2 separate regions of the Homo sapiens genome follow, and region 2 is linked to region 1. Evidence: fine-mapped expression QTL. Tissue or cell type: whole blood. Region 1 holds a variant in brackets; the other region holds the start of a gene. All regions are shown on one strand. Distances are from middle to middle.

Evidence for each region. PIP is the estimated chance that this variant, and not a neighbour inherited with it, causes the effect.
Region 2: BEST1 starts here. The variant in region 1 is fine-mapped to the expression of BEST1 in whole blood (TOPMed, PIP above 0.99).

Annotation. Positions count from the first base shown.
Region 1 is chr11:61,979,153-61,987,413 of GRCh38, forward strand. No RefSeq gene overlaps it. Among named protein-coding and RNA genes, the nearest start is that of FTH1, 16 kb to the left of the region's middle. The variant T/C (reference allele first, on the strand shown) is at 3,142.
Region 2 is chr11:61,947,272-61,955,271 of GRCh38, forward strand. BEST1 (bestrophin 1) reads left to right here and starts at 3,080. Exons shown (of 11, transcript NM_004183.4): 1 at 3,080-3,156; 2 at 4,500-4,687; 3 at 7,836-7,930. The coding sequence starts at 4,536. It overlaps LOC107984334 (a long non-coding RNA gene), which reads right to left. Exons shown (of 2, transcript XR_001748245.2): 2 at 6,648-8,000.

The sequences.
Region 1 (8,261 bases):
CTTTCTCCAAGCTGCAGTCCAGATCCTGCCTCTGCCGAGAAGTCTTCCTGGATTCAGAGCTTGTCTCTTATTCCTGCTAATGTTTATTCCTTCGGCCTTTACTGAGTGACAGGAGGCCCTGTGCCATTGCATCATCATAGGGGAGGCTCGTAGGAAGGCATCATAGGAGGCTTGTAGGAAGCTGGTCTTCATCTCTGCTCCCAGGAATGGGACCAGGCCCTGGCACCTGGCAGGGCCTCAGCTAAGACTCTGGTTGGATGTGATTGAATCATCGTGAGAAAGGGGAATCCTTGCCCTGCTGGGGGGCGAAACGGGGGGTAAAGTTAGGACCCCCTGCCCTGCCCCATCTCACAAGCGTTGTGAAAAGGTCTTGAGCTTTGTCTGACTGGGTCTCGCTTGAGCCAGTACTGCCCCGTGAGAGATGGTTCTTTGCACTTAACTCCAGGTAACGGAGGGCCCATCCTGCAGTTTCCCCTTAAGAGCCTGGAATGGGAGCCTCGGGAGTTGGAACTGGTCTCTGGAGTTTGCCTTAAGCCCAACCAGCTTGGTCAGCTCTTTAGCCCAAAACTCCTGTATTCCAAGGGCAGGGGTCCTCAGGCCCAAGCTCCACCCAGCTGGGTGGGTTAGACTCAGACTCTTTTCTTAAAAATGAATCAAGTAAGAATAAAAACTAATACTTATTAATAAAAGCAGATACTTCTTGACCCCTTACTACATAGGCCAAACATGTCATTCGACAGATGAGGAAACTGAAGCACAGAACTACAAAGTACCTTGCCCAAGGACACACACCTGCTGTTCCAGTCCAGAGCCCACACTCTGAACCGCTCCTTGTCCCCACCCACTGCCCAGATCATTCGGCTCCATCCTGTTATCCACTTGTCATTCCACTGTTTGCCCATGGTGCCTCCCATATGGGGATTTAGTAAATGCTTATCAAATGGGGGTGCTTATTGAATTTGAGATTTCTGTTTGTTTACCAGGTTATCCCTAGCAAGGCATGGAGGGAATAAGGGGGAACAACAAAAATGCTGGATGCTGGGCTGGGCGCGGTGGCTCGCGCCTGTAATCCCAGCACTTTGAGAGGCTGAGGCGGGCGGATCACCTGAGGTCAGGAGTTTGAGACTAGACTGGCGAACATGGTGAAACCCCGTTTCTACTAAAAATACAAAATTAGACGTGGCGGCATGCACCTGTAACCCCAGCTACACGGGAGGCTGAGGCAGGAGAATCGCTTGAACCCACGAGGCGGAGGTTGCGGTGAGTTGAGATCGCACCATTGCACTGCACCCTGGGCAAAAAGAGTGAAACTCCGTCTCAAAAAAATAAATAAATAAAAATGCTGGATGCTGCAGCTCTGTCTTGCTGTGTGATCAGTCCTTGGCACAGATATCCCACCCGAGCCAGGCTTCTTGCATGTCCTTACTCTCTGCCGTTCCCAGGGAAGGAGGATATTTCTGAAAAGGTCCTGAATTTCAGATGGGCTGTCATCACTGTCAGTGTTAGGATGGAAGGGCTGAGTGCAGTTGCCTCCAGACCAACCCCTGTGAAAAATACTCCAGGGAAAATCGCTCTGGAGAGACATGGCTTCTGAGATGGTGCCCTGGGTGGATGGAGGAGAGAGCTGGGAGGTCTCACATCAGTCGGGATGATTTTGCTTTCAAGCAACAAAACCCAACCCACAATAGATTAAGCAACAAGGGGGATTTATTGACTTGTGGAGTTGAAAAGCCCAGACGAGGTGGACTTTAGACGTGGTTCCATCAGGGCTCGGGCCCCGTTTCTCTGTGATTCTCTCAGATCCGCTCCCATCCACCGGGCTTCATCCTCTGGCTGTCTTCCAGCATCCTCCAGAGCTGCAGGCTTCCTTCTTCCAGGGGTAAAGTTAGGACCCCCTGCCCTGCCGCATCTCACAAGCATTGTGAAAAGGTCTTGAGCTTTGTCTGACTGGGTCTTGCTTGAGCCAGTACTGCCTCTTGGAGTGTCTAAATCTTAATGGTTGTTTAAGCAAATTAAGGAAATGGAGTTGATGAGCACTTCTGAATGGCATTGGGCCCCAGGGCTCACTGGAGACAGGAAGAGTTTTTACCAATTGCTCTCTGCTCTCGCTTGCTGGTGTCTGATTTTACCAGAGTACAGTGACCTCAGCTGGGACACTCAGGCCTGCACCATTCAGACTTCAGAGCTGTATGTGGATCTGTGTGAAGACCTCTAGGAGCCCAGCACTCAGATTTGGGAGGCCCCACTGCACATCAGGGCAAACACGTTAAAACATGCCCACATTCCACATGCAGCATTGTAACCAAAACACAGGTTCAGTTGCCTGCCACTTGCAGAGTCCAAATAATAAGAGTGAGGTCTGGTATAAGTAAAGTGACTTTTTATTTCAAAACTAGCTTAGGGGAAGAGGTACAGGCTTCTTACCTTAAGAGTACCACCTTGGGGCTGGGCGAGGTGGCTCAAGCCTGTAATCCCAGCACTTTGGGAGGCCAAGGCGGGTGGATCATCTTGGTCGGGAGTTCAAGACCAGCCTGACCAACATGGAGAAACCCCTTCTCTACTAAAAATACAAAATTAACCAGGCGTAGTGGCGCATGCCTGTAATCCCAGCTACTCGGGAGGCTGAGACAGGAGAGTCACATGAACCCAGGAGGCGGAGGTTGTGGTGAGCTGAGATCACGCCATTGCACTCCAGCCTGGCCCACAAGAGAAAAACTCTGTTTCAAAAACAATCAAAGCAAAACAAAGCAAAAACAAAAAAGGCTACCACTTTGGGCTGGGCGCAGTGGCTCATGCCTGTAATCCCAGCACTTTGGGAGGCACAGGCAGGCAGATCACCTGAGGTCAGGAGTTCGAGACAGCCTGGCCAACATGGTGAAACCCTATCTCTACTAAAAATACAAAAATTAGCCAGGCATGGTGGCAGGTGCCTATAATCCCAGCTACCCAGGAGGCTGAGGCAGGAGAATCACTTGAACCCAGGAGGCAGAGGTTGCTGTGAGCTGAGATCATGCCACTGTACTCAGTCTGGGCAACACAGCAAGACTCCTTCTAAAAAAAAAAAAAAGAGTATCACTTCACTTTTGGCGTGGAAGGTGGGTACTTTTAAAGGGTGCCTGGCACACAGACATGAATGGCACA[T/C]GGGAGGAAGCAGGCAGGTGGGGGGCTGTGTACTTGCTTTGGTGCCTTATCTACCAGGTGGCCGAGAGTTGGCGTCTTTGAGGACAGAACTGGGTTGTGAAGGTGGCCAAAACTCTCCAGGTGGGAGAGAGTTTCATAGCAGGCATGCTTTGGGTTGTAAATGGACTGTTGTCTCTCAAGGCAGTCCCCTGGTGGGACAGAGTTCCACCCTGGAGCTTCTAAGCACGAAGTTAGATAAACTTGCCCTGTAGGGAGTGTCTGGTGAAGGGAAAGTGAAAGGTTATAACTGCATTTCTAAAGGGACAAGTGGGATGTAGATAATAGGGAAATAGAGGAAAGAGAAGAGAAAAAATAATTAAAAATAACTCCTTCTTGCTTCCTTCCTCTCTCTCTGTCTTTCTTCTTTCTTTGTTTTTTTTTTTTTTTTTTTTTAGATGGAGTCTCGCTCTGTTGCCCAGGCTGGAGTGCAGTGGCACAATCTTGGCTCACTGCAAGCTCCGCCTCCCGGATTCACGCCGTTCTTCTGTCTCAGCCTCCCAAGTAGCTGGGACTACAGGCGCCTGCCACCACGCCCACCTAATTTTTTGTATTTTTAGTAGAGACGGGGTTTCACCATTTTAGCCAGGATGATCTCAATCTCCTGACCTCGTGATCCGCCTGCTTCGGCCTCCCAAAGTGCTGGGATTACAGGCGTGAGCCACCGTGCCTGGCTTTTCTTTCTTTTTTTTTTTCTGACAGAGTTTCACTCTCGTTCCCCAGGCTGGAGTGCAATGGCGTGATCTTGGCTCACTGCAACCTCTGCCTCCTGGGTTAAGTGATTCTCCTGCCTCAGCCTCCCAAGTAGCTGGGATTACAGGCGAATGCCGCCACACCCAGCTAATTTTTGTATTTTAAGTAGAGACGGAGTTTCACCATGTTGGCCAGGCTGGTCTCGAACTGCTGACCTTAGGTGATCCACCCACCTCGGCCTCCCAAAGTGCTGGGATTACAGGTGTGAGCCACTGCACCTGGCTTCCATTCTCTTTTTCATAGAAAAATGGGGGCACTTGGTTATAAGCGAAAAATAAGTAAAGAAGACCTGAGCTCAACTGCAGATGACAGCTTTACAGCTCATAAACATTTACTTTTATTAATTTTGCTGTTTTCTTTTTAAATTTAGGAGCCAGTACATTTTCTTGGACCCTTGTAAAGCTCATAGGCACTAGGCCTGGGCCTGTCTTGCCTAATAGAGAAATCTGCCTGTTTGAGGGCAGTGATGGTGATTTGTGTGTGTGTCCCTGAAGGAACACCAGGCCTGGAGCCAGGACTGTGGAAGCTGGTCCCAGCTCTGCCATTAACTAGCTGGGTGACCTTGGACAAGCTGCCAACTTCTCTGGACCTCTGTGTAGTCACTTGTCAATTGGAGATAATGTCACCTCTATTTCTCCCCTGTGTTCTTTGCTGAAGGGGCATTTCTTCCAGCTGGGGAGACTGGAGGGGCTTAACTGAGTCTTGCCATTGAGCCGAGTAAACCCAATTTCTTTGGGATCCATTTGACACTGGTTGGCTGCCCACTCTAAGCCAAGCTTGCAGCCAAGCTCTGGAGGAGTAGAGATGGCTAAGCCAGAGCTTGTGTTCACAGTAGCCCAGAAAGATAGGCTCAGCAGAGACGTGTGGAAGGGGCACAGTGGGATTCAGATGAGCAGCCTGAGAGCCTGAAAGAGCCATGGAAGAGCCTGCCAATGGAAGTGCCCTTTCCTTGCTAAGGAAGGTAAAATACCCAAACCAAGTCAATTCAGCAATGATCCTGGGGTGCAAGAGTGAAAGGGCCAGGGGCTGTAGCTGCCTCTTAGCCTCAGTGTGGTGACTCCCTTCTGTTATTTTTTTTTTTTTTTTTCCTTTTTTGAGACAGGGTTTAGCTCTGTCACTCAGGCTGGAGTGCAGTGGCACATACATGGCTCACTGCAACCTCGACCTTCTGGGCTCAAGCAATCCTCCCACCTCAGCCTCCTGAGTAGCTGGGACTATAGGTGTGTGCCACCACACCTGGCTAACTATTTTTATTTTTTTATTTTTGAGATGGAGTTTCGCTCTTGTTGTTCAGGCTGGAGCGCAGTGGCGCGATCTTGGCTCACCGCAACCTCTGCCTCCCGGTCAAGTGATTCTCCTCCCTCAGCCTCCCGAGTAGCTGGGATTATAGGCATGTGCCACCACGCCTGGCTAATTTTGTATTTTTAGTAGAGACGGGGTTTCTCCATGTTGGTCAGGTGATCTGCCCATCTCTGCCTCCCAAAGTGCTGGGATTACAGGCATGAGCCACCGCGCCTGGCCTCTTTTTTGATTTTTAGTAGAGAAGAGGTGTTTCCATATTGCCCAGGCTGTTCTTGAACTGCTGGGCTCAAGCAATCCTGCCGCCTTGGCCTCCCAAAGTGTTGGGATTATAGGCGTGAGCCACTGCACCAGCCCTCTCTTAACAACTTTTAAGTGTACGTCACAATATTGCTAACTATATGTACATTGTTGTACGAGAGTTCTCCCAGACTTTTTTCTCTTCCATGGCTGAAACTCCATCCCGTTGAGCAACAACTCCCCATTTCCCCTCCCCTCAGCTCCTGGAAACCACCATTCTGCTTTCTGTCTCTATGAATTTGATTACTTTAGGTACTTCTTATAAGTGGAATCATGCAATATTTCCCCTTTTGTGATTGGCTTATTTCATTTAGCATGATGTCTTCAGGGTTATCGTTGGTATAGTATATGACAGGATTTCTGGTTCTTAAAAAAGACTGAATGACATTTCATTGTATGTATATACTACGTTTTTTAAATCCATTCATCCATCCACAGAAATTTAGGTTGCTTCCACATCGTGGCTATTGTGGATAATGTCATAATGAACATGGGGATGCAGATATCTCTTTGAGATCCTGTTTTTTATTCTTTAGGATATATACTCAGAAGTGGGATTGCAGTATCATATGGTAGTTCTATTTTTAATTTTTTGAGGAGCCTCCATATCATTTTTCATAGCAGTACACCATTTTACAATCCTACCAACAGTTTGCAAGAGTTCCAGTTTTTCCGCATCCTCACTGACACTTGATAATTTTTTTTTTTTTTTTTTTTTTTTTAGACAGAGTGTCGCACTGTTGCCTGGGCTGGAGTGCAGTGGCTCGGTCTCAGCTCACTGCAACCTCCACCTCCCGGGTTCAAGTGATTCTCCTGCCTCAGCCTCCCAAGTAGCTGGGATTACAGCCACCCACCACCACACCCACCTGATTTTTTTTTTTTTTGTAGTTTTAGTAGAGACAGGGTTTCACTATGTTGGCCAGGCTGGTCTCAAACTGCTGACCTCATAATCTGCCGAACTGGTAATCTGCCCGCCTCGGCCTCCCAAAGTGCTGGGATTACAGGCGTGAGCCACTGCACCCAGCCCACTTTTTGTTTTTTTGATAGTAGCTATTCCAATGGGCATAAGGTGATAGCTCATTGTGGTTTTGATTTGCAATTCCCTGGTGATTAGTGAACATCTTTTCATACGCTTGAAAAAAAAGACGGTGAGCATCTTTTCATATGCTTTTTGGCCTGACTGTTAAAAGAAAAACAAACAAACGGAAAGAAAAAACAAAAACAGCATCAACAAAAAAGTCCCCACGCAAACCCCATCCAAAGGTCAGCAGCCTTGAAGCTCGAAGCTAGATAAACTCATGAAGATGAGAAAAAAATCAATGAAAAATTGCTGAAAACTCAAAAGAGCCAGAGTGCTTCTTCTCCTACAAATGATTGCAACACCTCTCCAGCAAGGGCTCAGAACTAGGCTGAGGCTGAGACGGATGAACTGACAGAAGTGGCCTTTAGAAGGTGAGTAAGAACAAACTTCGCTGAGCTGAAGGAGCATGTTCTAACCCAATGCAAAGAAGATAAGAACCATGACAAAACATTACAGGAGCCCTTAACCAGAAAAACCAGTTTAGAGAGGAACATAAATGACCTGATGGAGCTGAAAAATACAACATGAGAACTTCACAGTGCAACCACCAGTATCAATAGCTGAATACACCAAGCGGAGGAAAGAATTTCAGAGCTTAAGACTAACTTGCTAAAGTAAGACAGTCAGAAAAGATGAGAGAAAAAAAGAATGAAAAGGAACAAACAAAACCTCTGAGAACTATGGGATTATGTAAAAAGACTGAACTTACAAATGATTAGGGTACCTGAAAGAGACGGGAGAATGGAACCAAGCTGGAAAACATATTTCAGGATATCTTGCAGGAGAACTTCCCCACCCTAGCAAGGCAGGCCAACATTCAAATTCAGGAAATCCAGATAACCCCAGTAAGATACTCCACGAGAAGATCAACCCCAAGACACATAATCATCAGATTCTCCAAGGTCAAAATAAAGGTTAAGGGCAGCCAGAGAGAAAGGCCAGGTCACCTCAAAGGGAAGCCCATCAGACTAACAGTGGACCTCTCAGTGGAAACCCTACAAGCCAGAAGAGATTGGGGCCAATATTCAACATTTTTAAATAAAAGAATTTTCCAACCCAGAATTTCATATCCTGCCAAACTAAGCTTTATAAGTGAAGGAGAAATAAAATCCTTTTCAGACAAGCAAATGCTGAGGTAATTCATCACCACCAGGCCTGCTTTGCAAGAGCTCCTGAAGGAAGCACTAACATGAAGGAAAAACCCATTACCAACCACTACAAAAACACACTGAAATACAAAGACCAATGAAACTATGAAGCAACTACATCAGCAAGTCTGCAAAATAACCAGCTAGCATCATGATGACAGGATCAAATTCACACAATCTTAAATGTAAATGGGCTAAATGCCCCAATTAAAAGACACAGAACAGCAAGCTGGATAGAGTTAAGACCCATAGGTATGCTGTATTCAAGAGACCCATCTGACGTGCAAAGACACACAGGCTCAAAATAAAGGGATGGAGGAAAATTTACGAAGCAAACAGAAAGCAGAAAAAAGTAAGGGAGGAAAATTTACCAAGCAAACGGAATGCAGAAAAAAAGCAAGGGTTGCAATCCTAGTTTTTGACAAAACAGAGTTTAAACCAACAAAGATAAAAAAAAAAAAAAAAAGACAAGGACATTACATAATGGTAAACGGTTCAATTTA
Region 2 (8,000 bases), 32 kb before region 1:
GAGAAATGGTTTGGCGAATATTTTCTTTGCGGAACGGAAAGCAGAAGAGGGCGACCTTGACTGGGTTGGGTGCCATCTCTGCAGGGGTCAATCCTGGGACTCTTGTTCCAGGCATGGCTTGGGTCAATCAGCACTCATGACTTTGCTGTGTGCCTGAGCCGTGCCTGGCTAACTGGGGACATTTTCATAGCTGAGACCCAGTAGGAGAGACCATGACTTGTGCCAGGGTGTGCCTGTCTCAGCTCTGGGGCAGGGCCAGGAGCAGCTGCTCATGGGATGTCTCTGGGGACATGCTGGGGCCTCTGGGAGGGGAAGGGAGACTGGCCATGCACTGTCTATGGTCCTGGTGGTACTCCTGGGATATTGCCAAGGAGCCTGCGGTTCAGGGAACAGGGAGGAGGGACTCTAGTGTCTCCAACTCCCTCTCATGGCTCTATGGCTGCTGGTCGGGGTCAGGGAGATGAAGCAGTGCCAGCTCCGTGGTCTGCACTGATCCTGACCAGTGAACCAGGCTTCCCCAGCCAGAGCCAGCTAGTCAAGCACGCTCTCTAGTGGCCACCACAGGGAAGGCAAGAACTTGTCTCCACAAAGGCAGGATTTTCATTTATTCCTTCAGAGAGTACAGAATGAGCATCAATGTTCCAGGCATGGTGCCAGGCATGTGTGTTAACTTTAGTTAAAACATACTTATTGGCCGAGTGTGGCGGCTCACTCCTGTAATCCCACCACTTTGGGAGGCCTAGGTGGGAGGACTGCTTGAACTTAGAGCTCAATACCAGCCTGGGTAATGTAGTGAGACCCTATCTCTATAAAAAAAAAAAAAATAGCTGGGTGTGGTGGTGTGCGTCTGTAGTCCCAGCGACTTGGGAGGCTGAGATGGGAGGATTGCTTGAGCCTGGGAAGTGGAGGTTGCAATGAGCCAAAATCACACCCATTGCACTCCAGCCTGGGTGACCTTGTCTCAAAAATATAGTTATATATTTACTTATATATTTATATGTATAAATATATGTGTACATACAAATATATTTGTAATATTATAGACATATTAATACATATTTACATATGTTAATATATAAATATATATAATATATATTTATCATCTTCTAAATGGAAAGCTCTTGAGTTTCAGGATGTGTTGGTTGGGAAGGGAATACAGGATAGGGAAATAATCCATTAAGCAATGACTCAGCACAGGCCATAAAATCAGAATCACCTGGAGAACTTGAACAATCCCAACACCTGGGGTCCATCCAGACCAATCAAATCAGAATTCGTAGGGGTCAGGCACAGGCACCAGTGGTTTGGAGAGTTGACGGACACATGTCCCATCCATCATTCTCATTCGGCTGCCAAGGTAGGCATCGTTGTCCCATTTTGCATATGAGGAGACTGAGGCTGAAGTGAACCTGCTTCTTTCCCCATATCAGTTGAGGACAGCGATGGGGCAGCGGGGAGGCAGTAAATACTCCTACAAGGCTGCCTCTAAAGAGAGTCTTATAATAACAACAGCTTTATTGTTTGCCATGATTAGAAAAGTATTCAAGGTCATTGCGAAATAGTGTTTTTTTTTCTAGGCAGATAATTATATAAAGGCAAAAATGGTGTGTGGGGGTGGGGGACAAGGGGAGGGAGAGCATTAGGACAAATACCTAATGCACGCAAGGCTTAAAACCTAGATGATGGGTTGACAGGTGCAGCAAACCACCATGGCACACGTATACCTATGTAACAAACCTGCACATCATGTATACCTATGTAACAAACCTGTACATTCTGCACACGTATCCCAGAACTTAAAGTGAAAAAAAAAGTGGTGTGTAGAAAAATCACCTGCAATCTCAGCATAGTTAACGCTTAGTACATTTCAGAGAGAGAGGGTGACAGGAAAGGGAGGATGAGAGTGGGTTTAAGACACAAGGTCATATTATAAAATCAGGGCTTCTGGAAGTTTAGTCCCAAAACCACACATCTCATAATCCCCTGCAGTGCTTGATTAAAATGCAACATCCCTAAGGCCACAGACTCAGACTCTGGAGAAAGATCCAGAAAACTGCCCGTTTAATAAACATTTGGGCGATTCTTACGGCCTCTAAAGACCAAGAACCACTGCTGCCTAGAGCTCTGCTCTCTTCATTGAACAATACAAGAGGAGTGTGTAGGTAGACACCCACCACTTCCAACAGCTTAGGAGAGCCCTTGAGTATGGATTGATGTATTAAAATTTATTGAATCACATGCTGAGATTTTCACCAGCTGCCCGTGGGGATCTGGGCATTTATTCCCATATTGCACTGGCTGGCTGGAAGCCAGCAGCATAAACTCCAGGGCTGTTCTGTCAACCCCCACCAGACTCACCCCCCTCCACCAGCCCCGGCAGGCTTCTCCTTCCATCTCTCTGAAGCAACTTACTGATGGGCCCTGCCAGCCAATCACAGCCAGAATAACGTATGATGTCACCAGCAGCCAATCAGAGCTCCTCGTCAGCATATGCAGAATTCTGTCATTTTACTAGGGTGATGAAATTCCCAAGCAACACCATCCTTTTCAGATAAGGGCACTGAGGCTGAGAGAGGAGCTGAAACCTACCCGGGGTCACCACACACAGGTGGCAAGGCTGGGACCAGAAACCAGGACTGTTGACTGCAGCCCGGTATTCATTCTTTCCATAGCCCACAGGGCTGTCAAAGACCCCAGGGCCTAGTCAGAGGCTCCTCCTTCCTGGAGAGTTCCTGGCACAGAAGTTGAAGCTCAGCACAGCCCCCTAACCCCCAACTCTCTCTGCAAGGCCTCAGGGGTCAGAACACTGGTGGAGCAGATCCTTTAGCCTCTGGATTTTAGGGCCATGGTAGAGGGGGTGTTGCCCTAAATTCCAGCCCTGGTCTCAGCCCAACACCCTCCAAGAAGAAATTAGAGGGGCCATGGCCAGGCTGTGCTAGCCGTTGCTTCTGAGCAGATTACAAGAAGGGACTAAGACAAGGACTCCTTTGTGGAGGTCCTGGCTTAGGGAGTCAAGTGACGGCGGCTCAGCACTCACGTGGGCAGTGCCAGCCTCTAAGAGTGGGCAGGGGCACTGGCCACAGAGTCCCAGGGAGTCCCACCAGCCTAGTCGCCAGACCTTCTGTGGGATCATCGGACCCACCTGGAACCCCACCTGTGAGTACAAGGTGCCCCAGGTGGACTGGGCTGGGGCTTTGAGGCCTTCAGGGTTGGATGGCCATCTTGCGTATTTGTGTGGGATATGCACACACAGGCAGCACATGCGCAGGTGTGTGGGCACCTGTGTGTCTGTGCAAATGCCCTGAGGTGGGAATGAGCTTGGTGTGCATCAGGCACAGCCAGCCAGTGTGGCTGCAGCAAAACACACAGGGAAAGAATGGAGGGGGCATCAATCACTGCTTCAGTAAATTTTTATTGAGCGCCTTCTACGAGAACACAAGAGGAGCTTCCATTCTGAGGAGGAAACAGGCAGGAAACAGGCAGATATCCTGTATAATTTCAAGTAGTGATAAGTGCTCTCTAGAAATATCAAGCAAGGTGAGGAGACACAGAGCACCGGTGGCAGTGGGGCTCTATTTCCAGGTTGGATGGTTGGGAACATCCTTTCTAAAGGGAACCTGGAGTGGGAAGGAACCATGCAGGTATCTCAGGAAGAGCTTCCTCCAGGCAGGAAGATCAGCAGGTGGAAAGGCCCTGGAGCCACCATTCAGTAAACATCATTTGAGCATCTCTACCAGCTAGGTTCCATTATGGGAATGGGAATATGGTGGTGGACAGGGCTGCCTGGTCCCTTCCATACTTCTCACACTAGGGTGGTTGAGAGAGCTTGGGAGCTAACGAACAAGATGGGCTGAGAACACTGCCTAGCCCAGAGGACCTGAGCTTAGTGTGTAGACATTGCTGCTGTTACTGCCTTTGTCATTGTATTATTTATTTATTTATTTATTTATTTTTAGACAGAGTTTTGCTCTTCTTACCCAGGCTGGAGTGCAATGGCGTGATCTCAGCTCACTGCAACCTCCACCTCCTGGGTTCAAGCGATTCTCCTGCCTCAGCCTCCTGAGTAGCTGGGATTACAGGCACCCGCACCACGCCTGGATAATTTTTTTGTATTTTTAGTAGAGACAGGGTTTCACCATGTTGGCCAGGCTGGTCTCGAACTCCTGACCTTAGGTGATCCACCTGCCTCGACTTCCCAAAGTGCTGGGATTATAGGCATGAGCCACTGCGCCCAGTGATTATAGAAAGTTAAAGGCACATGGCAATGCACACGCCTATCTACGTCTTCCCTGCCAAAGCAAAGGGCAGCCTCTGGGCTCACTTTCTTGCGTTTCTACTTCCAAAAGGCAGTCAGAACTGGCAGGGCCTTGGAGACCACTTCATCCACCTCCTAGGGTCCCTATGGGAGAGTTGAGGTCCAGAGCAGGGAAGGGTCCTGACAGGCTCTGACCAGGGCCTCTGATCCCTACAAACCCCCAATCGGTGTCCCTCTCTACCAGGACCCAAGCCCACCTGCTGCAGCCCACTGCCTGGCCATGACCATCACTTACACAAGCCAAGTGGCTAATGCCCGCTTAGGCTCCTTCTCCCGCCTGCTGCTGTGCTGGCGGGGCAGCATCTACAAGCTGCTATATGGCGAGTTCTTAATCTTCCTGCTCTGCTACTACATCATCCGCTTTATTTATAGGTAAAGCTGGCAGGGCTGGGCCGGGGGGCCTGGGAAGGATGTGGCTGGGGCTGGGAGCTCCTGGGGGCCTCCCAGCCAGCTCAGGGGCCAGTGTACCAGTTCACTACAAGACTAAGCTGAGCTCCTGACCAGGTCCTGGGCACTGGAGCTGAGGCTGGGGCTGGGGGCTGGGGAGAGAAAAGAAGTCAGACTGAGAGGCTGCTCAAGCCAGGCCAGCAGGGTTTTAGCCACCCTTCCTCCAACCCCAGGAGGACCCCTGGAGCCCAGGCTTTGTCTGGCCCCACTCAACTGGCCTGTTTTACTGAATCCCACACAGACTCATAGGCCCACATAGTACATTAAAAAAGAGAGAGAGAGAGAGAGAGAGAGAGAGAGATGGAGTCTCACTGTGTTGTCCAGGCTGGTCTCGAACTCCTAGGCTCAAGCAATCCCCCTGCCTTAGCCTCCCAAGGGGCTGGGATTACAGGTGTGAGCTACTGCACTTGACCAACCACATGGTACTTTTTTTTTTTTTTTTTTTTTTTTGAGACAGGGTTTCACTCCATCACCCAGGCTGGAGTGCAGTGGGGGCAATCTTGGCTCACTGTAACCTCTGCCTCCCAGGTGCAAGCGATTCTCCTGCCTTAGCCTCCTGAGTAGCTGGAATTATAGGCACACACCACCACGCCTGGCTAATTTTTTTTTTTTTCTGTATTTTTAGTAGAGACAGGGTTTCATCATGTTGGCCAGGCTGGTCTTGAACCCCTGACCTCAAGTGATCCACCCACCTCGGCCTCCCAAAGTGCTGGGATTACAGGTGTCAGCCACCATGCACAGCCCACATGGTACATTTTTTAAAATTATTTTTTAATTAAAATGTTTATCTAAGGCCAGTAGCAGTGACTCGCGTCTGTAATCCCAGCACTTTGAGGGGCCAAGGTGCGGGGATCACTTGAGCCTGGGAGTTCAGCGTGGGCAACATAGTGAGACCCCGTCTCTACCAAAAATTTAAAAAATTAGCTGGGAGTGGTGGCATTTGCCTGTGGTCCCAGCTACTTGGGAAGCTGAGGTGTGGGGATGGCTGAAGCCTGTGAGGTCGAGGCTGCAGTGAGCTATGATCACACCACTGCACTTCAGCCTGAGTGACAGGCTATCTCAAAAGCAAACAAAATAATGTTTATCTAAACAATAAAATATAATCACAGAATATATGATAGCATTTTAAATTGAAAAAGCATTAATGATTACATGGATTGTAAAATATCAAATACATGAAATTCTTGTGTTCTTAATAATGCTAGCAACAAGGCACATTTGGTTTTTACTAGGGCACCAAGGTACTTTAAAAAAAGTTAGGGCCAGCCACAGGGGCTCACACCTGTAATCCCAGCACTTTGGGAGGCCAAGGCAGGAGGATCACTTGAGCCCAGGAGTTTAGGACCTGAGCAACATAGGGAGATCCTGATCCTGTCTCTATAAAAAATTAAAAAATTGGCTAGGCCCTTTGGCTTACACCCGTAATCCCAGCACTTTGGGAGGCCGAGGCGGGTGGATCATGAGGTCAGGAGTTCAAGACCAGCCTGGCCAACATAGTGAACCCAATCTCTACTAAAAATACAAAAATTAGCCGAGTGGGGTGGCACGCACCTGTAGTTCCAGCTACTCAGGAGGATGAGGCCGGAGAATCGCTTGAGCCCGGGAGGCAGAGGTTGCAGTGAGCCGAGACCATGCCATTGCACTCCAGCCTAGGTGACAGAGTGAGACTCCGTCTAAAAATAAAATAAAAATCAAAAAATGATCTGGGCATGGTGGCTTATGCCTGTAGTCCCACCCAGCTCCTCAGGAGGCTGAAGCGGGAGGATTGCTTGAGCCCAGGAGGTTGAGGCTGCAGTGAGTCATGACTGTGCCACTGCCCTTGAGCCTGGGTAACAGAGCAAGACCCTATCTCAAAACAAACAAACAAACAAACAAACAAACAAAAACCAATAAACCAAAAACATTTATCTAAACAATAAAATAAAGGACAGATATAATCACCGAATATATGATAGCATTTTAAATTGAAAAAGCACTAATGACTACAATGGATTATAAAACATCAAATACATAAAATTCTTAAGTTCCTCCTAATACCAAATACAAAGCACATTGGTCTTTGGTTTTTACTTGGGCACTAATGCATGCTGAAAAAGAGTCAGACTTCATTTTTTAGAGTAGTTTTAGGTTCACAGCAAAATTGAGCAGAAGGTAGAGTTCTCATGTGTCTCTTTGCTCCTCCCCCTGCCCCCAGCCTCCCCACTATCAACACCCCCACACTACAGTGGTAGATTTATTACAATCCCTGAACCCACAGTGACACATCACTATCACCCAAAGTTCATAGCGTACAGCAGGGTTCACTCTTGGGCTGTACATTCCATGGGTTTGGATAAATGTGTAATGATGTCTCCACCATCACAGCATCAGGCAGAGTAGTTTCACTGCTCTAACAAAATCCTCTGCCTATTCACCCCTCTCATTAAAGCCAAACACTCTGTTTCTTTTTTTCTTTTTAGAGACAGTGTCTCGCTCTGTCACCCAGGCTGAAGTGCAATGGCAATCACAGCCCATTGCAGCCTCCAACTCCTGGGCTGAAGTGATCCTCCTATCTCAGCCTCCAGTGGCTACGACTGCAGGCATACGGCAACGGCACCCAACTAATTTTTTGTAGAGATAGGGTCTTGCTATGTTGCCCAGGCTGGTCTTGAACTCTTGGTCCTGCCTTAGCCTCCCAGAGCTCTGGGATTACAGGCGTGAACCACCGTGCCCGTCCCAAACACTCTGTTTCGACCTGCTTTTAAACAACTGACCCTTGGCTGCATTCAAAGGATCAGGGTGTCTGAAACTGGCCTCTGCAGCAGGACCTTCCTTCCTACACATCTCCCAGTGGCCAGTGTGAGGATTCTCCCCACAAGAAACCACTGGAGGGGGCCTCCTCCTGTCCGGGTTTGGGGCTGTACAAGGAGCATCATGGACCTGGCTCAGGCCTCAGGAGGGGCCCTGGGCTGGGGAAAATGTGGGATAGCATCGAGGCAGTCCCACTCCTACCCAGGGCCGGGCTAGACCTGGGGACAGTCTCAGCCATCTCCTCGCTGCGTCCACACAATTCCACCCCCACCCCCACCCCCAGGCTGGCCCTCACGGAAGAACAACAGCTGATGTTTGAGAAACTGACTCTGTATTGCGACAGCTACATCCAGCTCATCCCCATTTCCTTCGTGCTGGGTGAGTTCCCCCTTCTGGCTGTTCCGGGTCCCTGTGGCCGCCCAGGCTCCAGACAGGCCAGGGGAGGATC